7 linked regions of the Homo sapiens genome follow. The protein of the gene in region 1 purifies or fractionates together with the protein of each later gene. This does not show direct contact. Each region holds a gene or a part of one and is shown in the gene's direction. Other genes may lie near its edges.

Region 1 (3,500 bases):
ATATTGTTTTATTATTACTATTATTATTTTGCAACAGGGTCTCACTCTGATGCCCAGGCTGGTGTGCAGTGGTGTGATTTCTGCTCACTGCAACCTCTGCCTGCTGGACTCAAATGATTCTCCCAGCTCAGCCTCTTGAGTACCTGGGACTACAGGCTTGCGCCACCATGCCTGGCTAATTTTTGTGTATTTTTTATAAAGACTGGGCTTTGCCATATTGCCCAAGCTGGTCTCCAACTCCTGGGCCCAAGCAATCCTCTGGCCTTGGCCTCCCAGAATGCTGGGTTACAGGCATGAGCCACCGGGCCTGGCCTGCATCTTTATTTAACATGTTCCTTCAAACAGCTCACTGCCAAGGTCATTTCTTTTTCTCAGAACCATACTTCATTTATTTAAGAGCCCTTTCCGATTGCCTCCCCCAGACCAGAATGCAGTCACTAGCGTGATAAGAGTCTTTATAGCTTGAAGTACCTGCTGTTCTCTTTTCTTTTCCCTACTGGTCTTATGTACACCAATCTGGGTATCCAAAGCCCTTTCCTTCATATGTACCCACTTCCTGGCCTGAGATAAACACATTTCTGGGATCCGCCATCACATACCTAAATATATCCAAATATATCCTTATCTTTCTGAGATTTTTGAGTGATTTAAAATTTTTCATCCTTTTTGTATGTTCCAGAATTTCTAATTTTTTTTTTTTTTTTAAACAGGGTCTAACTCTGTTGCCCAGGCTGGAATACAGTGGTACCATTCTCCACCCACTGCAGCCTTGAACTACTGGACCAAAGCTGTCCCACCCCAGTCTCCCGATTAGCTGAGACTACAGGTGCACACCACGTGCCCGGCTAATTAAAAAAAACATTTTTTTGGAGAGATGAAGTCTTACTATGTTGTCCAGGCTGATCTTGAACTCCTGGGCTCAAGCAGTCCTCCCAGCTCGGCCTCTCAAAGTGCTGGGATTACAAACGTCAGCCACTGCACCTGGCCCTGATTTTTTTTAAGAAAGGAGCATGTTTTTTAATCAGAAAACATCTTCATTTTACAAATTAATACCAAATTAATTTGTGCTCACTTGTAAAATTCCCACCTCAGGATAATGTAGGACTCTCTGACCTTAGGAACACACTTTTTTTTTCTAGTCCCTGGACTTGGGATTCTTTGGGAATTGCTGTTTACTGGCTTGTTATCTCTTTTAATAACCCTAGAGAGTAGGTACATCTTCTTTGTATTTCTGTCTTCAGCAGTAGCCTATATGTGTGTATAAATAAATGTTCAAAAGTATCTTCCTGGAAGCCTATTTGGACAGTATATTATCTTCAGCAGATTCTTTTTTTTTTTTTTTTTTCCAAGACAAGGTCTTGCTCGGTTGCCCAGGCTGGAGTACAATGGCGTGATCTCGGTTCACTGCAACCTCCACCTCTGTGGTTCAAGCGATTCTCCTGCCTCAGCCTCCTGAGTAGCTGGGACAACAGGCGCGTGCCACCACGCCTGGCTAATTTTTGTATTTTTAGTAGAGATAGGGTTTCACCATGTTGGCCAGGCTGGCGGCAGATATATTATTGATTCCATTTTGTTTTTTCTAATTGTTGTATTTAAACTTTAAAGTTTTCTGTTTGTTTAGAACAAGGACAGGGGGACATCCCTACATTTTACACCTATGAAGAAGGATTATCCCATCTAACAGCAGAAGGCCAAGCCACACTGGAGAGATTAGAAGGAATGCTTTCTCAGTCTGTGAGCAGCCAGTATAATATGGCTGGGGTCAGGACAGAAGATTCAATAAGAGATTATGAAGGTGAGTGTCCTTTTGCAGTGTGAACAGTCAGATGAGCACTTGGGCAATAAGTTATGGATAGTCAATAGAAGTTCTTTTAATAACTAAGAGAAAGAATTGACTCTCTATAGTATAGGAAGCAGATACAGAATTACATAGTATAGGAATGCTTATGTCATTTGTTTTTAGTGATTTTTTTTCCTCATTACCAAAAAAGTCTTTGTTCATAGTCAAAAAAATTTTTTTAATGTGCGCAAGAAAGTAGAAGTGAAAAAGAAACAAGTGTAATTCTAACTGAGAGATATCCACTATTAATTTACTGTTGCATCTGTGTATTAGTTTGCTAGGGCTATTATAACAAAGTGTCATACAGGCTGGGTGGCTCAAACAATAGAATTTTATTGTCTCATAGTTTTGGAGGCTAGAAGTCCACGATAGGTTATCTCTGAGGGCTGTCAATTCAGGCATCTCTTCAGGTATACACACACCCACCAAAGCAAGAGAGAGATTTTAAGAAATTGGCCCACGTGACTGAAGGCTGGCAAGTCCAAAATCTGCATGGTAAGCCGGCAGACTGGAGACCCAGAGAAGAGTTTATGTTGCATTCTGCTGCCTCAGAAGTTCTGCTGGCAGAATTTCTTCTTGCTCAGGGGAGGTGAGTCTTTTTCCTATTGAGGCCTCCAGCTGATTAAATGAGACCCACCACACTATGCAGGGTAATCTCCTTCACCCAATTTTCACCAGTTTACAAGGCTAATCTCATCTAAAAAATAACCTCCACAGAAACATCTAGAATAATGTTTGACCAACTATCTGGACACCATTGCCTAGCCAAGTTGATGCATAAATTTAACTATCACACCCTTCTTTTTTTCTTAAGATGGAGTTTCGCTCTTGTTGCCGAGGCTGGAGTGCAATGGCACGATCTTGGCTCACTACAACCTCCGCCTCCTGGGTTCAAGCGATTCTCCTGCCTCAGCCTCCTGAATAGCTGGGGTACTGGCGCCTGCCACCGCTCCCAGCTAATTTTTGTATTTTTAGTAGAGACAAGGTTCCACCATGTTGGCTTAAAGTATGCACAGGCAAAGAAGAGGTAGAAAAAAATAAATATAATTCTGAGATGCATTTACTATTAATTTTCTGTTGCATATCCTTTCAGTCTTGTGTCCTTTTGTGTGTGTATATACACTGATTGTGTGTGTGTGTGTGTGTGTGTGTGTGTGTGTTTGAGACAGAGTCTTGCTCTGTCGTCCAGGCCGGAGTACAATAACGTGACCTCGGCTTACTGCAACCTCTGCCTCCCAGGTTCAAGTGATTCTCCCACCTCAGCCTCCTGAGTAGCAGGGATTACCCACTACTATCGTGCCCAGCTAATTTTTGTATTTTTGTAGAGACGGGGTTTCACCATGTTGGCCAGGCTGGTCTCGAACTCCTGACCTCAGGTGATCCGCCCGCCTCAGCCTCCCAAAGTATTGGGATTACAGGCGTGAGCCACTGCACCCGGCCATGATTCTGTCTTATTTATTTATTTATTTATTTAAGACGGAGTCTCACTCTGTTGCCCAGGCTGGAGTGCAGTGGCATGATCTTGGCTTACTTCAACCTCCACCTCCTGGGTTTAAGAGATTCTTCTGCCTCAGCCTCCTGAGTAGTTGGGATTACAGGCATGTGCCACCATGCCTGGCTAATTTTTGTATTTTTAGTAGAGGCGGGGTTTCACCATGTT
Region 2 (3,500 bases), on another chromosome or scaffold:
TACAAAGGCAGTTGAGTTTTACGGAAGGAGTATTATCATTTAAATTACAAATGTCTCCCAAAGTTAGCTTGGCCCAAGCCCAGGAATAATTAAAGGTAGTTTGAAGGGCCAGGCGCGGTGGCTCCTGCCTGTAATCCCAGCAGTTTGGGAGGCTGAGGCAGGCGGATCACCTGAGGTCGGGAGTTCTAAACCAGCCTGACCAACATGGAGAAACCCATCTCTAGCTGGGCATGGTGGCACATGCCTGTAATCCTAGCTACTCAGGAAGCCAAGGCAGGAGAATCGCTTAAACCCGGGAGGCGGAGGTTGCAATGAGCCAAGATGATACCATTGCACTCCAGCCTGGGCAACAAGAGCAAAACTCCATTTAAAAAAAAAAAAAGGTAGTTGGAAGGCCAAAGATGGGGATTGGTTAGATCAGATCTCTTTCACCACCATAATTTTCTCACTGTTACAGTTTTTGCAAAGGTGGTTTCATTGGCATTTCCTGGAAGAGGCGAGTTCACTGGCATTTTCCTTGGTCCTCAGGGCTGTAGGCATCCCTCTAGGACTAAGGTGTGATGTTGGATACAGCATGGTCTACTCCCACCTTCCCACCTGACAGATACTTTTGGTTTTCCAGAGTGTTGATGTACTAGGCATGTATCTTAACATTGTGCCTTACATCATGTAAGTGTCCAGTCAGTTGCAATATTTCTCTTCAAATTCATAGATGTCTTTCAGTATTCAAGTTCTTAAAAGTGTTGTGGGCCAGGCCCACGCTTGTTATCCCAGCACTTTAGGAGGCCAAGGCGGGCGAATCACGAGGTCAAGAGATCGAGACCATCCTGGCCAACATGGTGAAACCCCGTTTCTACTAAAAATACAAAAATTAGCTGGGTGTGGTGGTGCATGCCTGTAGTCCCAGCTACTCGGGAGGCCGAGGCAGGAGAATCGCTTGAACCCGGGAGGCAGAGGTTGCAGTGAACCGAGATTGCACCACTGCACTCCAGCCTGGGTGAGAAAGTGAGACTGCGTCTCAAAAAAAAAAAAAAGTGTGCGTCCAGCTCTCTGTAGCACCTGCCTGGTAAAGCATTCCTCTTTATGGTGCCCAAAACAATGTCATTCAAGTCAAAGAGTGTGTCTTGTTTTCTAAATCCCAAAAGAGGTGGCCAAGTTCCCTTTCCCCTGGGCCATTCTGTTCGTAAATTTTAGGCGTCCAGTGGCTCTCTATCAGGAGACCTGTTTCTTGGAGGGTCATGCAAGAGCTATTGGAATCCCTTGTTGCACTCAGATGTCCTTTTGGGTACCTTTCTGAGGAATGGCTACCAGAACTATGCCCAGCAATGTAGCTACGCACATTGGAATTTCGCACACAAAGGCAAATGCATTTGATGTCCTTCCTGGTGCTGTGGGGAGATGGGGAGTGTAGAAAACCAGAAAACTGAGCTCAGAAACAGAAGGCAGGCTGGGCACAGTGGTTCATGCCTGGCATCCCAGCCCTTCAGGAGGCTGAGGCGGGCGGATCACTTGAGCCCAGGAGTTTGAGACCAGCCTGGGCAACATGGTGAAAACCTGTCTCTATAAAAAATACAAAAATTAGCTGGGTGTGGTGGTGTGCACCTGTAGTCCCAGCTACTCAGGAGGCTGAGGTGGGGTGAACGCTTAAACCTGGGAGGTTGAGGCTGCAGTGAGCCATGATCACACCACTGCACTCCAGCCTGGGCAACAGAGCTAGACCCTGTCTTAAAGAAAGGAGAGAGAGGCCGGGTGCGGTGGCTCATGCCTATTATCCCAGCACTTTGGGAGGCTGAGGCGGGCGGATCACCTGAGGTTGGGAGTTGAAGACCAGCCTGACCAACATGGAGAAACCCCGTCTCTACTAAAAATACAAAATTAGCCGGGCGTGGTGGCGCATGCCTGTAATCCCAGCTACTCGGGAAGCTGAGGCAGGAGAATTGCTTGAACCTGGGAGGCGGAGGTTTCGGTGAGCCAAGATGGTGCTGTTGCACTCCAGTCTGGGCAATAAGAGTGAAACTTCGTCTCAAGAAAAAAGGAGAGAAAGAAGGGGGAGGAAAGGAAAAAAAACAGAAGGCACGGGCTCCAGCCCTGTCTCTCTGTGGCTGCGTGCCGTTGGGTCTTGAAGGCTCTTTGCTCCTCTGTAGGAAGACTGGGAGGGTAACGCAGTACACGAAGAGGGAAAGAGATGGGGGAGGTAGTGCTGGTCATTGTGGCTGCTTGACTCCGAAACCACGAGGCTTAAAGCAGCAGCGGCTCTGCGCTCTGGGCTGGCTCCGCCAGACAGTGGACAGTGAACAGTGGACAGTGCTGCAGCTCTTGCTGCTGGTCGCTCGCGTGGCTGTGCTCAGCTGGCGTGGGCTCAGGGCTGGGCTGCCGGGGTGGGTGGGCTTCTCCGTGTGTCGTCTCGGGGCCTCTCCCTCCCCTTCTTTCACAGGGCTCAGGGCTCCTCAGTACAAAAGCAGCAGCTGCCAGCCCTTCTTCAGGCATCAACCTGGAACATGCTTCCTGCCACTTTCCTGCGTTCCGTGGGTTAACTAAGTGCGAGCCCAGTTCCGGTTCTTTGGGAGGACTGGCTCTTTAGGGGCCGCCAAAATAACAGCACAGAGCTTCTGCCTGTCCTTTCCCTCCCCAGAGGGGCGAGACTGCAAATGGAAGCAGCTCGGCCTGGCTCCTAGTGCCCATCCCCACAGCCATTCCCCAGGGAGCACCCCCAAGCCTGGGCTGGGACCTGCAGTGCAAAGGCCCTGACCCTCTTTCCTCCCAGCCACTGGGGACGAGGCCTCTGCTGTCCTATGGCCTCAGCAGTAGCTCTGCCTGCGTGGGAGCCTGGCTTCCCCAGTGTCCTGGCCTCAGAGCCACGTGGCTTGCTGAGACCTGAGAGCACCCGGCCGGCCCTCCCTGGCTGCTTCCCGCTGCTGTGGCCCGTGGGGCTCAGCTGGCAGTGCTGTGGTGAGCCGAGGATGGGGGCACGTCACACCTCTCCTGACTGCATTGTAAGTGGCCATCACGCAGGCGTGTGGTGTCCGTGTGGGAATGAGGGATGGATGGGACAGATGTTACCTGAACAGCTGATGTGGGCAGGACGGTGCCTTAGTAAAGACATCCTTTCAGGCCCTGGGCCACTCCCCTCCCAAGGCCAAGCTGCACAGGGGAGTTCAGCCTCAATGTGAACCCTCCTGAAGCCAAAGGCTCTCCCCCAGCTTCCGAGTTTCTCAGTTGCTGCCGGAGGGAGTGGGGCTCACTCAGGGGCTGGCGCTCCTTATTGGGTTGGTTTATGTCAGCCTGTCACCACCATGAAGTTAGGATCCTTCCCCGGCAGCAGGTCCCCTGCAAAAGCCATGGGCCCGGAAGGCAGCCGGTATGCCAGGCCAGAGTCAGGACCCACGTTGCTGCCGTCAGCTTAGCCACTGCGAGGGTTGTGTTTCCTGCAGTAGAGTGTCAGCTCCGGGTGACAGGTGACGGCATTTCATCCCATCAGGTGTCAGGAGGACCCCTAGCCA
Region 3 (3,500 bases), on another chromosome or scaffold:
GGACTAGCCTGAGGAGGGGCTGCTGTGGTCCTGTCTGCAGATCAGGAGGACAGGCTGAAGGACGGAGCCTCCACCCAACCGAGGTTACAAATGCCAACTGGGAGGCATTTTCTTCTGTGACAAAATGTCTCATAAGGAAAGCCTGGAGAATTAGAGCTTACTTACAAGCCTTTGCCACCCACTCAGCGAGGGAGGTTTCTCTCTAGCGGAAGCAGAGTTCTGTAGTTGGTGTCTGTTTTCTGAACATCTCCAGGTCGTAGACATGCCAGAACACAACCCAGGGCAGATGGGCGGAACCATGAGGCTGGGCAAGAGGAGAACCCTGTTCCAGACCAAGAACTCAGTCATGAGTAAGAGCTGCCTCACGCTGGCCCAGCCTTTGGCTCTGCGTGCCCAGGACGCGTGTCTTAGGGTGATGCTGTGGCTTCGAGGAGCAGGCTGGCTTTTTTTGGTTTCGTTCTTGCTTTTGAAGTTCATTCTTTCCTCTCTTATTCATACCCTTTTAGGATGCACTGTGATAGCCATAGAAGCAGTGTGGGTCTTAGAAAGGACACTGGCAGTGCAGTCAGACTCCTAGGCATGGGCGCCTCAACAGAATGAGGCAGTGAGGTTACATTCATCCTTATCGGTTACTTTCCTATTAAGACCAGCCATATCAATTGCTGATGTTTGGCAATTTTTGTCACACAAAGATGGCAATTTCATATGATTCAGCCTAAGTAGATTCTGTTCTAATAAAGTACTAATAGATGCTGAAGGTTTAGGGTAGTTTTCGGAGGAAAATAGTTAAGAAAATGACTATTACACAGATTTCCTTCTTGTCTACTGGGAAAATTCTGCCTTTACTGTATTAGCAGAGGCACCCTTGTGTCTGTCTGGGCGTTCTGTAGCAGCATAGCTGGAGTCACTTGAGTATCGGATCTTTCTCTTACCAACTCTGATGTTCTGTGGATTTGGGGATCTCGAGGCAACTGTGAAATGAGTCAGTAGAGCAGCCCGTTCGCAAATGTCCAGCTTGTTCACATGCAGCCACTGAGGGCTGATGACCTTTGATGACCATGATTGGAACTGAATGATCATCAGAGGTCATCTGTGCAGCTCTTAAAATGCCTCCCATCCTGCCACGTTCCCAGGGCCTTGCCGTTTCGTACATCCTGATTTGCTTTCCAAGGCAGTTTTCTAGCAGCAAAGTGCCCATACTTTGCAATCATGTGTTTGAGGGTGGTGGTGAGAGTCTTGTTTCTGTTACAGCTTTCTGTAGTGTTGTCAGAAAGAGTCAAAAGCCCAAGAATTAGTCTAAACTGTGTTGTTAAGAGCAGGTGACCTTAGCAGATTCATAGAAATAGCCCTCAAAAGACCTGGCTGTGTGGATGATGAAAAGTAAAGCAGGAAGGAGGATGTCTTTGTGAACGCATCATCCTGTGAGATAAAGTTCTTTACATACAGCCCGTTTGTTTTGCCAGGGAAACTCTATGGAGACGCAGACTACTTGGAAGAGAGGCACCGCCACCGATTTGAGGTGAGGATTCCAGCTTGCTGGTACTCTGGAAAGATAGTGAGCTGAGAGACCAGCAGAATTATTTTTCATGCCTCAACAGGTGAATCCAGTCTGGAAAAAGTGTTTGGAAGAACAAGGCTTGAAGTTTGTTGGCCAAGATGTTGAAGGAGAGAGAATGGAAATTGTGGAGTTAGAAGGTGATTATTCGGGCAGTTTTATTTAATGGAAAACTTAGTAAAGTTTTCTTGGCATATGGGAAAATATAAAAATGTTATCTTGTTGCTCCTGACCTAACAGAATTAGGAAGCAGCACTGTCTCATGAGGGAAGGGGTCTTGATAAACATGGGGTCTGGACTCTAGAAACTTCTTTCTGGTACATGGCCTTCCTCGGGGAGCCATTTAACTTCTGGCCGCAGTTTCTCCTTCTCCAAAATGCTTGGAGTTGGTACTAAAGCCACTTCAGCCCTCTCCTGAACCGCAAGACTCAGTCTACAGAAATCCTGGGAGCCAGGGTCTTGGGCGGGACCCTGGACAGGAGGCCTTCAGCCAGGAGGGGACAGCACAAACCGTGCTGAGAAAGGGTATCAGATCACTCATGCTTTGAGGTTCCCTTTATCTAGATTCAAATGAGAAAGTCATTTTCAAATTATTTTAGGGCCTATGGAAACAAACATTTAAGCAGATTTTGTTCTTTTACACTTTGTGCATAACCTTCACAATGAAGCTGTTTCTTTTGAATCTCTATTTCAGATCATCCCTTTTTTGTTGGGGTTCAGTACCACCCTGAGTTCCTGTCCAGGCCTATCAAGCCCTCCCCACCATACTTTGGCCTCCTCCTGGCCTCTGTGGGGCGGCTCTCACATTACCTCCAGAAAGGCTGCAGGCTCTCACCCAGGTAGGCGCACTCTTTGCTTCAGTAATCCATTAGTCTTCTCTAGTCCTTTAGGTGGTCGCTGATTCATTACAGCAACACGTCACAGTCAGTCATAAGAAAAAAAAGCCACAGGCGCCTGGGGTGAAAGTTTCCTCTCCTTTCCCGGAGCTTTCTCACGGTGTTTCCCTGGCATATTGGCCAGGTCCCCCTTTCTGCAGCATCTGAGCTCTGGTGGTGCTGACCAGATCACACTTGGCGTAGGACCCTCTGGTCCATGTTAAGGGGAACTAGTTTTTCCTGGGAAGTAAGCCACAATGGGTAGGTTTATGTCCCATTGCCACCTTTATCCAGAACCAGTACTCAGAGTTGGTGGTAGGGTGTGTGACTGAAGTATAAATGGAATGTATATCTTTTGTAGCTAGAAGAAGGAAATCTTTCTGCAGTTTCATGTTAAATATATTATGTAGCAAACAGTCTTTGTGATTCCTGCCATGTGCAGGCAAGTGTCCCTGTAGGAACCGTGGTTACAAAAACAGGGACGTAAAGTGAGTTTTTGGTGGGAGATGATGCGTAAACCATCTGAATTCTACAGGGACACCTATAGTGACAGGAGTGGAAGCAGCTCCCCTGACTCTGAAATCACCGAACTGAAGTTTCCATCAATAAATCATGACTGATCTTGTAGCGTAAGTGGTACTTTAAAGTTTTAGTTTTTAAAAACATGGTGATAACACACTGCGATTGCAAGAATATCATGGAAGTTTAGGGCTGAAAATTTTTATCTGCCAGGAATGAAAGTGGTGAGGTCTTGAATATAATCCAGAGGTTGAGAGAGAAAAGAAAGTAGTGAGGTCATTGTGGGTATCAAATGGGCAGCCCTTCCTCCAAGTTGCAGTGCACCTCCCAGTCCTGCCCTGGGGATGACAGCTTGGGGAGCATGGTCACTGGGCAGTTGTCTCAATACTGATTACTACATTCTGGTGCCAGTCTGACCAGTTCTGGGGCGGGGAAGGGGAGGGTCTGAATTCTTAGACCCTATTGTTTGATGTAGCTGTAAATTTTGGAGATCTTGAAGGAAGGGACAGATACAACAATGTGGCACTTGTCATTTCTGCAGAGCCTCAGGT
Region 4 (3,500 bases), on another chromosome or scaffold:
TGGGAAGATGCCCAGTGGGGAGTGGAAGGAGAGTTTCCCCACCTGACAGCCAGCGCAGCCCGAGAGGAAGGGACCCCCGTGAGTGGAGATTTGCTGGGAAAGGCTGAGGAAAGTCCCACAGAGGAACTGAAGAAGCACCCTCCTCACAGAGGACAGGGCGTGCATCCCGACCCCCAGGCCTGCGCCCTTCCTCGGGCCATCCCTCTGAATGTCAGGAAGCCAGTCAAACCAGACAGAGGCAACTTCCCACCCAAAGAGAGGGGAGTGGTTCCCACCCAGAAAGGAGGGGCTGAGCTGAAGGACCGCGAGGCTTCAGCATTTCTTCACATGGAGGTGATCATTCCCCTGCCAGCCTCCCCTGGTCATTCTGAGGACCTGGCAGCTCTGGAGGAAGCTTCTCCAAGCCCAACCTCCCATGGGTCAGGGGAGCCTTCGGAGCTCAGGGAGCCCTTTCTTAGACATGTCCATCTTTCGAAAGCCAGCCCAGAGCCCAAGGACCAAGTAGGGTTTGTGGTGTCCCCTGCCACAGGAGGTGAGCGCAGGCCTCCTCCCATCACCAGCAGAAAGCCCAGAGTAGTCCCTGAAGAAGCTGAGGGGCGCATACCTCTGGGGTTTGGGTTCCCTTCAGGGAAGCGAAGGGAGATGACCTCTTTCCAGGCTGGGGACCAAGAGGGCTCCCTAGAAGATATTAGCAAGACCTCAGTGGCCAACAAAATTCGGATATTTGAGACCCACGGAGCTGAAACTCGCCGAATGAGTGAGGGTGAAGCAAGGTCCCTTCCAAATGACGTATCTTCAGAGGCACCCGTGGGACAAGCAGAGCAGCAGCGGAGTACGCTCTCAGACCTGGGCTTCGCCCAACTCCAGCCCCCAGGGGACTTTGCCAGCCCCAAAGCCACACATTCCACAGTGATACCTCTGGCTACCAGACACTTCAGGGAGGACACTTCTGCATCCTACCAGGAAGCACACACGGAACTAGAGCCCGTGTCCCCCAATTCAGGCTGTGAAACCACGCTGGCAGAAGCTACTGGAACTGGGGTAACTGGCCGCGTGAGCCCCCGCCCCCACCGCTGCTCCCCGCCCATGGGGGCTGGCCGCATGCTCTGTAGTTTTTAGAAGCATGTTTCAGTGGCCCCTCGTCATTTCTGCAATCAGAGGCTGCTTATCCATCCCTGTGAGTTTTTTCCCTAAACGGGCCTGGGTGTAGCTCAGGCTGAATGATGGGCTTCTCTGCTTGGCCCATGTTAGCTTGGCCACAAAGACCCTCAGCTTTTGGTGTGACCTGGTGCCCAGAGGGTCACACAACCCCCATGGAGAAGGTGGCGCCACCACCAGCAAATGACACACCTGCTTTGCCTTGCCGCTCATACCCGCTGGGTTCCTGCCTACCTTGCTTGGCTTGTCCAGCGATCTTTCTTCATCCTTTCCCATCCCTGGTTCTCCCGCCTTGGGAAAGTTGACAGTCCAGAGGTTTCCATCCTTCACTTCTGGTTCCCTCTCAGTCCCAGTGCCAAGTTTCTTTCTGCCTCCTTAAGACTAACTGTCTTCTCTAATCCAGAACAAATCCGGAGATGCGGTCAGGGAAGAGAAGCGCTCCACCAACTTAGCAGCCAACACCCCTGGGAAGGGGGGGCGCCTGAGATTTGCCAGCCCCTCGGGCCCTCAGGTCTCTGCAGCCCCTCTGTGCCCTGATGACCCAGTCACCTTCACCCGGCCAGGATGCATCGCCGCCTTAGGTTCCCACCTGCTGTGGCAGCACCTCTCGTGCTGCTCAACTCTGGCTTGTCTGGAATGTCTCCCTCACACCTCTCAACCTTCCAGAAACTGGCTAAATGGAGGCTCGCTTAGCAAGTGAATGTCTAAGCCCACTGAATCCCTAGAACCAGAAGCCAAGTTCTTTACAAATCTTTCATGGGTATTAGGTTGGTCTTTAAAAAGAATGTTATGAACCAGCCAAAAATGTGTGTGTGGTGTTTAATCCCTGACAGGCCAGTTGAGAGGTATGTATGTCGGACAAGAGTTGCTGGTTCCCCGAGGCACTGCCTTGGCCCGCTGTTGTCAATTACACTGATGGGACCAGAGCCTCTACTCCCTGACTTGCCTGTGGTCCACTCATGGAGCCCAGGGTGGAGCTGGCGTAGCACTCAGCTCCCAAGAAGCTCGTGCCCAAAAGGCCTGACCCTGAATTGCTCTTCTCTCTAGTCGATGCTGACCCCTCCCCCGGAGACTCAGTGGAATTGACAAACATGTTGGCTTCCTCTTTTGTTCCTCAAAGTTCTTGGCTCCAACCTCTCTGCCTTCCCTTCCTGGGTCTCCCTGAATCCCTGGATCTCCCTCCTTAGTTTCTGTTTCTCAACGCCCACCTGCACGGATGGGCCTGGGGTCCGGGCTTCCATCCCTGCCTTTCGTGCAATGCTGCTTCCAATAAGCTCCCAGATCCAATACCCTTGGATGGAGCCTCCTGTCCAGGAGTCACTGGCAGGACGTTTGCTTTGTACTTGCTTTTGCCATCAGTGTGAGACCCTCAGAAAGGGGCATCTCCACTCTTGAGTCGTTTTTGTTTTTTTTATGCTTGTTATGATTTCAAGGAACCTTTCCTGGGGTGTTTTTCATTTCCTGGCCTGCTCTTCCATTCAGGATGTCGACACAGCCCCGAGATTTCTCCTGACATTCACCATCTTGATTTCTCTTTCTCTCTCTCTCCCCACCCCACATCCCCATTCTTTTGATTTTATCTGGCCATAGAGAGCAGGGCTGAGGGAGGGCTCCGAGGAGAAAGTCAAACCACCACGTCCCCGGGCCCCAGAGAGTGACACAGGCGATGAGGACCAGGACCAGGAGAGGGACACGGTGTTCCTGAAGGACAACCACCTGGCCATTGAGCGCAAGTGCTCCAGCATCACGGTCAGCTCTACGTCTAGCCTGGAGGCTGAGGTGGACTTCACGGTCATTGGTGACTACCATGGCAGCGCCTTCGAAGACTTCTCCCGCAGCCTGCCTGAGCTCGACCGGGACAAAAGCGACTCGGACACTGAGGGCCTGCTGTTCTCCCGGGATCTCAACAAGGGGGCCCCCAGCCAGGATGATGAGTCTGGGGGCATTGAGGACAGCCCGGATCGAGGGGCCTGCTCCACCCCGGATATGCCCCAGTTTGAGGTACAGTGGAGCTTCCTCAAGAGCCAGGCCCGCTGGGCACCGCATGCTCAGAGGGCCCTGGGCCACCCGTGAGAAGACCGAGCACCCAGCCTGCAGCCTGAAGCTCTGTCTCGTGTTGCATGACTGCCCCTCCGCAGAACAGCATGGTTCTGTGCTCGCATGTTTGCCATCTCGGTTTACCCCTAACACGCGCTCCTTGGTATTTTAACCCTGTGACCCCATCGCTTGCTGAAGTCGAGCGATGACAGGTAGTCTGGTCTTTCTTGACCCCATGCCCCCCCACCTGTGTTGCATGGCACCTGCAGAGAGCATGCGTCTGTGGACTCTTGGGGGCTCCTGCA
Region 5 (3,500 bases), on another chromosome or scaffold:
CTGATTAACCTGGGTGGAGCTTGTCCACTCTTGCTGACAAGTCCAGGGGCTAAGGCCAAGTCTCAGCCCTCTCTGCCTCTTGCTCCCGGCTGCCCCTCTGCTTGCACCCATGTCCCTGCCCCTCACCTGTGAGAGTGTTAGCACGTGGACGGCTGCCTGTGCCAGGTACTGTGGCTTCTCCACCTGGCCTGTTGGGGGGTGGTCCCTCATTGCCAGCTGGGGAGCCGTGCAGTTTCTAAACCTCTCTCTTCACCCTCGGTCTGTCCACTCCCCTCGTCACAAGGTGGTTTCTCTGGAAGCTAAGATAGATTTGGGAAGCAGGGTCTGGTAGATTAGGTGCCAGCGTCCATGGAAGGGCAGAAAGGAAGCAGGATTGGGCAGAGCTGACTGACAGGGAGCTCTGGAACCACGTGGCCTCACGGCGGTTCCCGGTGCCCCACTGCAGTTGGCCGTGGGGTTGGCGGCCCTGGGAAGAGCGGTCCATGGGGGAGGCCCTGAGCTCTCTGTTGCCTGCTGACAGCACTTCCCACAGCAGGCAGTTTGCTGGGGTGGGGACGTGGGTGGCTTATCCAAGTCATTTGCTTTGTCCTTTACACCGTACTGCACGCACCTGACACCACCAGACTCCCATGGTAGAGTCATTATCAGTAAAATCAGTTCATCGTAGTGATTACTGTAAACGAGACTGTGTCCTGCCAGTTAACCCTGTCCCGGCAGGAAAGAATCCTCATCCTCTGGAACATCCCGTGAATCTCATTTTGAGTTATTTATCCAAAGGAGGTTGAGATCTGAGGTTCTGACCCCTCCCACTGTATGATCTATGTAGATGTGTGGTGTCGGTGCAGATGTGGGGCAAATACTAAACCACCTTGATGTTCAGACACATTTTGGCCAAAGACATTTTGGAAGTGGAGCCCTGGAGCTGAATGCTGCTCAGGGGTAGAGGTGTCAGAGTTCACCATTCCCAGAAAGGGCCATGAGGCTTGAAGTCATCACAGGACGAATGCCTGCCCTCTGGTCAGCCGTGTTTCTCCCTACTCTACAAGCCTTGGCAGATCTTTACTTTACGCTTCCCCTGGAGATGTACTGGTGCCTCTTGAGCTGCTGCTTTCAACTGGGCAGTTTTCACCCCCGACCTCACCCCTGGGGAACAATGTCTGGAGACAACTTGGTTGTCACACATGAGGAGATGGCCGTTAGCAGAGGCTGGGGTACTGCTCGGCACCCTCCATAGCCCACGGGACAGCCCTGCTTAGCACCCTGCATGTAGCCCCCACAGGACAGCCCCCACACCAAACAACAGTCCAGCCCAGAATGTCCCTAGTGTCCAGGGGGAGAAACCCTGCTCTAACTCAAGAGCGAAGAGCCTGCATTTCACTCGGCGTGAATTCTACACTTTCTGAGCAGAGTATCTGACGAAGCCTCTCTACAGAAAGTGAATAAACGTTGTTCAGATGACTTCGACAACTCTTGTTGAAAGTGACTATGCAGATGATGTAAATGATGTCGTTCCTTTCATGAGCCTTTGGTGTACTTGAGCTTTCAGCAGCCTGAGGCAAGACTGGACAAGTGTGGTTTTCCCCACTTTGCATGTGCAGAGCTCTGCCAGGAGGATAAGCTAAAGGAATCACATTATCAAGATAAAAAGAATATGCAAATAGTGCAGGCTGTGTGGCCTCTCCTTTCTTACAGCAGGCCCTCCGCTGTAGGCGAGGGCTACGTAAATCAGCCAAGGAGTCTCTTCCAGTTTAGCCTTCCTGGTGCCCAGTAGACATTCATGGAGTGCATGGAGGATGGCACGGTCTGACGCCCACAGGCTCCCACGTGGAAATCTTGCACCTCTCAGGGGCCTGCTGGGGTGTGAAGCTGGAGAATGCCCAGCGAGTACCTGAGGGCCTTACCCCACGCTCACACCTTGAGAGCCCTCTCTTGGGGACTTCAGAGACTGGCCTGAGGGAGCAGGTGGTAAAACCTCTGCCACAGCAGTCCCCATAAGGCTGAAGATTCCTGGATCCCCTCTGCTCATACTGGGCCAGTTTCCTCGCCACCCGTCCTGCTGTACTCTGGCCAAACTAAAAAGACATCTCTATTTAACTTTCCTCGGCATTTCCCATCTCTCTGGATGGTTCCAGGATAACTTTCTTTTAATAGTTGGACAACTTTGACCACATCATGGGGTGATGTAGGTTGTCTACAGGGAGTCCCTGTGCACTCAGCCATCTCAGAGCAACGTGCTAGCTGGTCAGGTTCCCACCGCCTGCATCTGTGTGAATCGGTTATTTGGGTAGAAGTTTGAAACCTCTCATTTTGAAACTACTGAAAATAGTGTGTTTATATAAGAATATGCTCACGCAAATTGCGTGTATTTAATCCTATAATACATATCTTACCAAGGGAGATTTGTTGTTGTTGTTTTCTTGGGTGACTGTCGTTCAAACCAACTCACTGGCCGTGTTTAAGTGAAAAAGCTTTAACAACCTAGCGTGAGCCCTGTCATTTTTGCTCTTGAGTAAATTGAGAAATGCCCTTGCTTGTCCTGCACATCCAACCACCTGGAATGGAGAACACCGAAGGTAGGGAAAGGATCTCCAGGGATGAGCAGGCCTGGAGCCGGCGGGGCTGTGGAGGAAGACCGGCCGCAATGAGTGAGTGCTGAGCAGAGAGAAGGGCCGTTCTCGGCTGGTATCAGGCCCAAGAGAGTCAACAAAGGGGGGACGAAAGGGAGACAGGGAAGAGAACAGTGGTGGGGCTGTAAGTTGACCTCCAGGTGGCAGAAAATAAAGTTGGAAGAATTGACTGGGACAGACAGCCAGGGCCCTGCAGGAAGGGCGGGAGAGGAAGCCTGCGGACACCTGCCCTTTGTGATTGAACCGCAGACACCAGGCCTGGCGGGGTCGCTTGCCTCCGCTGCCCAAGCTAAGGCTCCACTAAGCTGGTCCTGAGAACATACTTCATGCTCAACTTCAGGGATGTGGCTGTAGTGTCCTCACTCTATGCTGAGAATGAAAGAAGCACAGTCTATGAAAGGAAAACCCCGACAGCACAGAGCACTTCGTGCGGCAGCAGCACACCGGGAGTCCCACTCCCTTTCCTGCTGCGTTTGGATCTGCCGTGACAAGGACTATCAGAACCACTCACAGTAAGGTCGGGTCGCGTTTCTAAATCCACTGTTTATGGACCGTCTTTTCACTGAGAAGAAGCTCGTCAGTTCAGGGGTTTCTAGAACTTCTCCAGACTCTTCAAAAACTCATGACTTTCTCCAAGTTGGTAATCCCAGCACTTTGGGAGGCCCAGGCGGGCGGATCACGAGGTCAGGAGATCGAGACCATCCTGGCTAACACAGTGAAACCCCGTCTCTACCAAAAAATACAAAAAAAAATTAGCCGGGCGTGGTGGCGGGCGCCTGTAGTCCCAGCTACTCACGAGGCTGAGGCAGGAGAATGGTGTGAGCCTGGGAGGCGGAGCTTGCAGTGAGCCGATATTGCACCACTGCACTCCAG
Region 6 (3,500 bases), on another chromosome or scaffold:
CTGCTAATAATACAGAGAGTAGGGATATGGTATCAAGTTGGAGAACAGGATATTTTTCAAGAAGGTGAGAAAACGTTTCAATGCTGGGATCTAGTTTTGCTTAACTATTCCAAAGCAGTAGTTGATGCTTGCATATTCTGTTGAAAACTCTTTTTTTTTTTTTTTTTGATGGAGTTTCACTTTTGTTGCCCAGGCTAGAGTGCAATGGCTCATTGCAACCTCTGCCTCCCAGATTCAAGCAATTCTCCTGCCTCAGCCTCCTGAGCAACTGGGATTACAGGTGCATGCCACCACACCCGGCTAATTTTTGTATTTTTAGTAGAGACAGGGTTTCATCACATTGGTCAGGCTGGTCTCAAACTCCTGACCTCAGGTGATCCGCCCGCGTCGGCCTCCCAAAGTGCTGGGATTACAGGCGTGAGCCACCGCGCCTGGCCGAAAAGTCTTAAGTATTTAATGAAGTTTGCTTAAATTACATATTACAGTATAATTAGATCTTCAGTTTGCTTTTGTTTTTTGTTTTTGAGATAGTCTTTCTCTATTGCCCAGGCTGGAGTGCAGTGGCGTGATCTTGGCTCACTGCAACCTCCATCTCCTGGGTTCAAGCAATTCTGCCTCAGCCTCCTGAGCAACTGGGACTACAGGCATGCGCCACTATGTCTAGCTAATTTTTGTATATTTAGTAGAGACGGGGTTTCGCCACGTTGCCCAGGCTGGTCTCGAACTCCCGAGCTCAGGTGATCCGCCCACCTCGGCCTACTAAAGTGCCGGGATTACAGGCGTGAGCCACTGTGCCTGGCCAGTTTGGTGTTTTTTGTTTTTGAGACGGAGTCTTGCTGTGTTGCCAGGCTGGAGTGCAGTGGTGCGATCTCAGCTCACTGCAACCTCCACCTCCCAGGTTCAAGCGATTCTCCTGCCTCAGCTTCCCGAGTAGCTGGGGTTACAGGCACCTGTAGCACATGCCACCATGCCTGGCTGATTTTGTATTTTGTTTGTTTGTTTTGTTTTGTTTTTGTTTTTGTTTTTTTGAGACGGAGTCTCACTCTGTCACCCATGCTGGAGTGCAGTGGTGCGATCTTGGCTCGCTGCAAGCTCCGCCTCCTGGGTTCATGCCATTCTCTTGCCTCAGCCTCCCGAGTAGCTGGGACAATAGGTGCCCGCCACCACACCCGGCTAATTTTTTGTATTTTTTTTTTTTTTTTAGTAGAGACAGCGTTTCACCATATTAGCTAGGATGGTCTCAATCTCCTGACCTCGTGATCTGCCCGCCTCTGCCTCCCAAAGTGCTGGGATTACAGTTATGAGCCACTGTGCTCGGCCTAATTTTTGTATTTTTAGTGGAGACGGGGTTTCACCATGTTGGCCAGGATGGCCTCTATCTGCTGACCTCATGATCCTCCTGCCTCAGCCTCCCAAAGTGCTGGCATTACAGGTGTGAGCCACCATACCCGTTCCAGTTTCGTTTGTTTGTTTGTTTTTTAAAGAGCCTGGGTCTTGCTCTGTCACCCAAGTTGAAGTGTAGTCACTTGATCATGGCTCACTGCAGCCTCGAACCTCCTGGCTGAAGTGATCCTCCCACGTCAGCCTCCTGTGAAGCTAGGACTACAGGCACATGCCCTGAAACCTGGCTAACTAAACAGTTTTTTTTAGAAAACAGAGCTGCACTCTGTTGCCCAGGATGGTCTTGAACTCCTGGACTCAAGTAATCCTCCTGCCTTGGCCTCCCAAAGAGCTAGGATTACAGGCATGAGCCACAACATCTAGCACAGATATTTTATATATTATAGTCAAAAGACCTCACCAGGTGTGGTGGCTCACACCTGTAATGTCAGCACTTTGGGAGGCCGAGGTGCTAGGATTGTTTTAGCCCAAGAATTCAAGACCACCCTCGGCAACATAGTGAGAACCTGTCTCTACAAAGAATTTTTAAAAAATAGGCATGGTGCGGGCCCAGTAGTCCCAGCTACTGGGGAGGCTGAGACAGGAAGATCACTTGACCCCAGGAGGTCAAGACTGCAGTGAGCTACAATTGCACAACTGCACTACAACCTGGGTGACATGGCAGTATCTTGTCTCAAAAATAAATAAATAGGCCGGGTGCAGTGGCTCACACCTGTAATCCCAGCACTTTGGGAGGCCAAGGCAGGAGGGCTGCTTGAGCCTAGGAGTTCAGACCAGGGTAGGCAACATAGGAAGACCCCATATCTATAAAAAAGTAAGAAAAATTAGTCCAGTGTAGTGGTGCCAGCCTGTGGTCCCAGCTACTCAGGAGGCTGAGGTAGGAGGATCACCTGTGTCCAGGAGGTTAAGGCTGCAATGAGCCATGATCATGCCACTACCCTCTAGCCTGGGCAACAGAGTGAGAACCTGTCACAAAAATAAATAAATTAATAAAAAACAAAAGACCTAACAGTAGCCTTTTTCAAAAAAAAAAAATATATATATATATTTTTTGAGACGGAGTCTCACGCTGTCACCCAGGCTGGAGTGCAGTGGTGCAGATCTTGGCTCACTGCAGCCTCTGCCTCCCGGGTTCAAGTGATTCTCCTGCCTCAGCCTCCCGAGTAGCTGGGACTACAGGCGTGCACCACCATGCTCAGCTAATTTTTGTATATTTAGTAGAGACGGGGTTTCACCATGTTGGACAGGGTGGTCTCAATTTCCTGACCTCGTGATCTGCCTGCCTTGGCCTCCCAAAGTGCTGGGATTACAGGCGTGAGCCACTGCGCCCAGCTGAGAGGTTTTTCTAAGTCTTTGTGTATACATATTTCCTTTGCAAAAATTGATAGCAGACTACAAGACCTTAAACTAATGGATCTTAATCTGATTATCATGTATTAACGCTAAAGGCAAATAATGACTCCCACCATTAATTAGTGCCTTTATTGACTGAATCAACTTGCAAAGCCAGTTAGAAACTGCAGTTTTGTTTTGTTTTGTTTTGGTTTTTCAGAAATGGTCTCACTTTGTCCCCCAGGCTAGAGTACAGTGGTGCAGTCTTGGCTCACTGCAGCCTTAACCTCCATGGTTCAAGCAATCCTCCTGCTTCAGCCCCTGAAGTAGCTGGGATTACAGGTGTGCGTCACCATGCTTGTCTAATTTTTTTGTGTCTTTAGTAGAGATGGGTTTCACCATTTGGCCAGGCTGGTCTCGAACTCCTGACCTCGTGATCCTCCCACCTTGGCCTCCCAAAGTGCTGGGATTACAGGTGTGAACCACTACGCCTGGCCCAGGCTTTCCTAAAGAAACGTACAGCTTTTTGGCCAGGCTGGTCTCAAAATCCTGACCTCAGGTGATCTGCCCGCCTGAGCCAAAGTGCTGAGATTACAGGTGTGAGCCACCGCACCCGGCCACATGAGATTTTTTACTAATGCAGATTCTGGGATCCTTTTGAATCCTATGAAATAGGATTTTACAAAGGTGGGACCTGGGATCTCAATTTGTACCATTATTATAGCAGGTTCCTCTGATTCTGAAGCTGCTGGTTGGGTGGGAAGCAC
Region 7 (2,364 bases), on another chromosome or scaffold:
TATAACTTCACACTGAAGGCGAGAGGTTTTGAAGTAGTCCCTCTCTTTTTCCCGCTGCTGTCTTCCTTTCGCTACTGTCTTTTTTCCTCCTTTCCCCTGTCTTGTTCATTTTGTTATTAGGAAGTGAGGAGTCCCAAGGAGCAATACATCGAAGCATGTCTCAGCCAGAGGCTAGCAGCAGCAGCTATGACAGTGAGTGGGAACAAAATTAAGGAGTATTTATAAATATACAGCAATATTCTTAAAAAACAATCCCTTAAATTTTAAAACTGGCAATTTTAGTTTCAGAAAGATCCTGCATTGTTCTAGTGAGATTGACACTCATTAAGTCTAAGGCAGAGTCTCAGCTGCGCATCAGGAAGACTCATCCCTTTCTTGACTGCCTGGACATCATTTGTTACCTGAACTTTGCTTAATGAGCATCAAGCGTTTTTGTTTTGATAGATAAATGCCTTTAAATTCTAGTATAATTATGAATTTTTTTTTAACCTAAGTTTTTAGTTTAAGGTCTTCTACTGATGCTTTTTCCCATGAGAAAATATATCAGTATTTTTGTTATTTTATTAATGACAAAAGAGTATAGTAAAGTCATAAATAATTTAAGGAGAACAATTCAGTTTTTTTGACCTAACTTTTTCAGAAGATAAAGAATAGTCAGATTCACCCTTATTCATATAAACTCAAAATTGCCGTTCTTAAAATGCTGTTTATTTCCCCCATTACAGTTCACTTTTTTCCCCTAAAGTACAATGCGAGTTAAGGTATTTTACTATCAAAATAATCATAAGTGAGAGAAATATTATCTGATGGTAAAATATTATTGCTTCCAGCAAAAAGAAAAAGCCAAGAGTTCATGTAAATGTATATTTTTAAATTTATCAGTTTAAAAGTTACTTGAAGGAAAAGACACATTATTACATTTGTTTTTTTAATTTTTAAGATATATAGTACAATTCAGTGAACACTGTGTTTTAGGGCTTTAAGATTTTGTGTCATAAACGTGTTTCAAGAATGGTTACCTCTAACAGCAGCTTTAGAAATGTCAGTTTCTTCATTAACAATTTTATTTTCAAACACAATTTATGATTTACAGTATGGTAAGAGATTTTTCGCACTGTGTGATCTTTCAGAATGCTGTGCCTAGCAAAATGGGAGCAACTTTCCTTTAATATCTATTTAGACCATTTTAAAAATGTGTATAATTTTCTAGATACACCTAAACTCATTTTGAATAGTTGGGGGTCTATTGTGTAAGAACACATTCTGAAAGCTTTCAAAATGTGTATTGTGTAGGTTTTCTCAAATAAATAGAGGAGGTGATGGGATGGTTTTCAAGAAGAACAGAGGCCTCTAATCCTTTTATTTTTATGCAAGGCATAATTTTTACCAGTTGAGAAAATTTGGTTACTGGCTGCAAGTAATTTTTCCCCTCACAAAATGAGGAGCCTTTAAAAATCATGCATATTTTGGCATTTCAAAATCATGCCAGTATTTCAGAATTGTGCTAAAAATTAGCTAATATAGCCATGATATTTATGGCTGGTGTACTTTCCCCCCTCCTGTTCATAAAATGGAGGCTACTTTTGTTGGTATTATTTTTAAGAACCTTGGATTTTGGACCATTCCTGAGGAATCTTTGGAGAAAGCATGACTAGTCAAAAAGTAGATATTTTTAAGGGAACCCTACAAAGAAATTTCCTACTTTTTTTTTCCTACTGCATTATAAAATCATAGAAAAGCATCCCAAACTTGTATGTTATTTTCCAAATATCAAATTATATACATTAGTCTTCTGATTGGACCCTTTGCCAGTAGTGTATATTATGAAAATGGTTATATATTTAATTAAAGAGATAAGGTAGTTTTTTTTGTAACAATCAGAATTGATTATTAGGGAAAATATTGAATTGATTTATGCAGCAAAGTCAACAAGGTGCGTAGGACTGATTATATAATAAATTCCAGGCAGTAGTAGCCCTTTTAGTTGCAGTGAGAAACTTTGGATTGAAGGAGATGAGCAGCAGTGATATTTAATTTCAGAGTAAAATGGCAAATTAAGACATTAATGAGAATAATGCTATTTGAATGTAACTTTATAGTTGTTAATTTAGTGTTCTTTGTAGTGTGGTTAAAGATTTAAAATGTGTTGAAAGGGAGATATAGTATTGATTATTGACCTTGATTTTGTAATACCCTTTATGCCAGTCTCACTATCGCAGCATTTTCAGTTTTCTGTGCAGAATTAATTTCAAATTTCTTGAAATAGGCCGGGCGCAGTGGCTCATGCTTGTAATGCCAGCAGTTTGGGAGGCTGAGGCGGGTGGATCATTTGAGGTCAGGAGTTCGACACCAGCCTGACCAACA

What was found.
Region 2: the proteins of CLNS1A (region 1) and LRRC47 purify together in Homo sapiens (affinity purification with mass spectrometry; one large-scale study listed by BioGRID and IntAct). This does not show direct contact.
Region 3: the proteins of CLNS1A (region 1) and CTPS1 fractionate together in Homo sapiens (co-fractionation; one large-scale study listed by BioGRID). This does not show direct contact.
Region 4: the proteins of CLNS1A (region 1) and EPB41L1 purify together in Homo sapiens (affinity purification with mass spectrometry; 2 studies listed by BioGRID and IntAct, with this or other methods). This does not show direct contact.
Region 5: the proteins of CLNS1A (region 1) and CDYL purify together in Homo sapiens (affinity purification with mass spectrometry; one large-scale study listed by BioGRID and IntAct). This does not show direct contact.
Region 6: the proteins of CLNS1A (region 1) and SEC24A fractionate together in Homo sapiens (co-fractionation; one large-scale study listed by BioGRID). This does not show direct contact.
Region 7: the proteins of CLNS1A (region 1) and VRK1 purify together in Homo sapiens (affinity purification with mass spectrometry; one large-scale study listed by BioGRID and IntAct). This does not show direct contact.

The regions. Positions count from the first base shown.
Region 1 is NC_000011.10:77,620,795-77,624,294, reverse strand, and holds part of CLNS1A (methylosome subunit pICln), read left to right. Parts: intron 1-1,621; coding exon 1,622-1,795; intron 1,796-3,500. UniProt on the Homo sapiens protein: Involved in both the assembly of spliceosomal snRNPs and the methylation of Sm proteins.
Region 2 is NC_000001.11:3,789,999-3,793,498, reverse strand, and holds part of LRRC47 (leucine-rich repeat-containing protein 47), read left to right. Parts: intron 1-3,500.
Region 3 is NC_000001.11:41,007,196-41,010,695, forward strand, and holds part of CTPS1 (CTP synthase 1), read left to right. Parts: intron 1-253; coding exon 254-350; intron 351-1,463; coding exon 1,464-1,519; exon of another isoform or gene 1,520-1,598; coding exon 1,599-1,695; exon of another isoform or gene 1,696-1,700; intron 1,701-2,249; coding exon 2,250-2,394; intron 2,395-2,965; coding exon 2,966-3,050; 3' UTR 3,051-3,059; exon of another isoform or gene 3,060-3,063; intron 3,064-3,500. UniProt on the Homo sapiens protein: This enzyme is involved in the de novo synthesis of CTP, a precursor of DNA, RNA and phospholipids. Catalyzes the ATP-dependent amination of UTP to CTP with either L-glutamine or ammonia as a source of nitrogen.
Region 4 is NC_000020.11:36,206,740-36,210,239, forward strand, and holds part of EPB41L1 (band 4.1-like protein 1), read left to right. Parts: coding exon of another isoform or gene 1-1,041; intron 1,042-1,561; coding exon of another isoform or gene 1,562-1,669; intron 1,670-2,748; coding exon 2,749-3,159; intron 3,160-3,500. UniProt on the Homo sapiens protein: May function to confer stability and plasticity to neuronal membrane via multiple interactions, including the spectrin-actin-based cytoskeleton, integral membrane channels and membrane-associated guanylate kinases.
Region 5 is NC_000006.12:4,947,404-4,950,903, forward strand, and holds part of CDYL (chromodomain Y-like protein), read left to right. Parts: intron 1-3,500.
Region 6 is NC_000005.10:134,651,785-134,655,284, forward strand, and holds part of SEC24A (protein transport protein Sec24A), read left to right. Parts: intron 1-3,500. UniProt on the Homo sapiens protein: Component of the coat protein complex II (COPII) which promotes the formation of transport vesicles from the endoplasmic reticulum (ER).
Region 7 is NC_000014.9:96,877,382-96,879,745, forward strand, and holds part of VRK1 (serine/threonine-protein kinase VRK1), read left to right. Parts: intron 1-120; coding exon of another isoform or gene 121-192; intron 193-2,364. UniProt on the Homo sapiens protein: Serine/threonine kinase involved in the regulation of key cellular processes including the cell cycle, nuclear condensation, transcription regulation, and DNA damage response.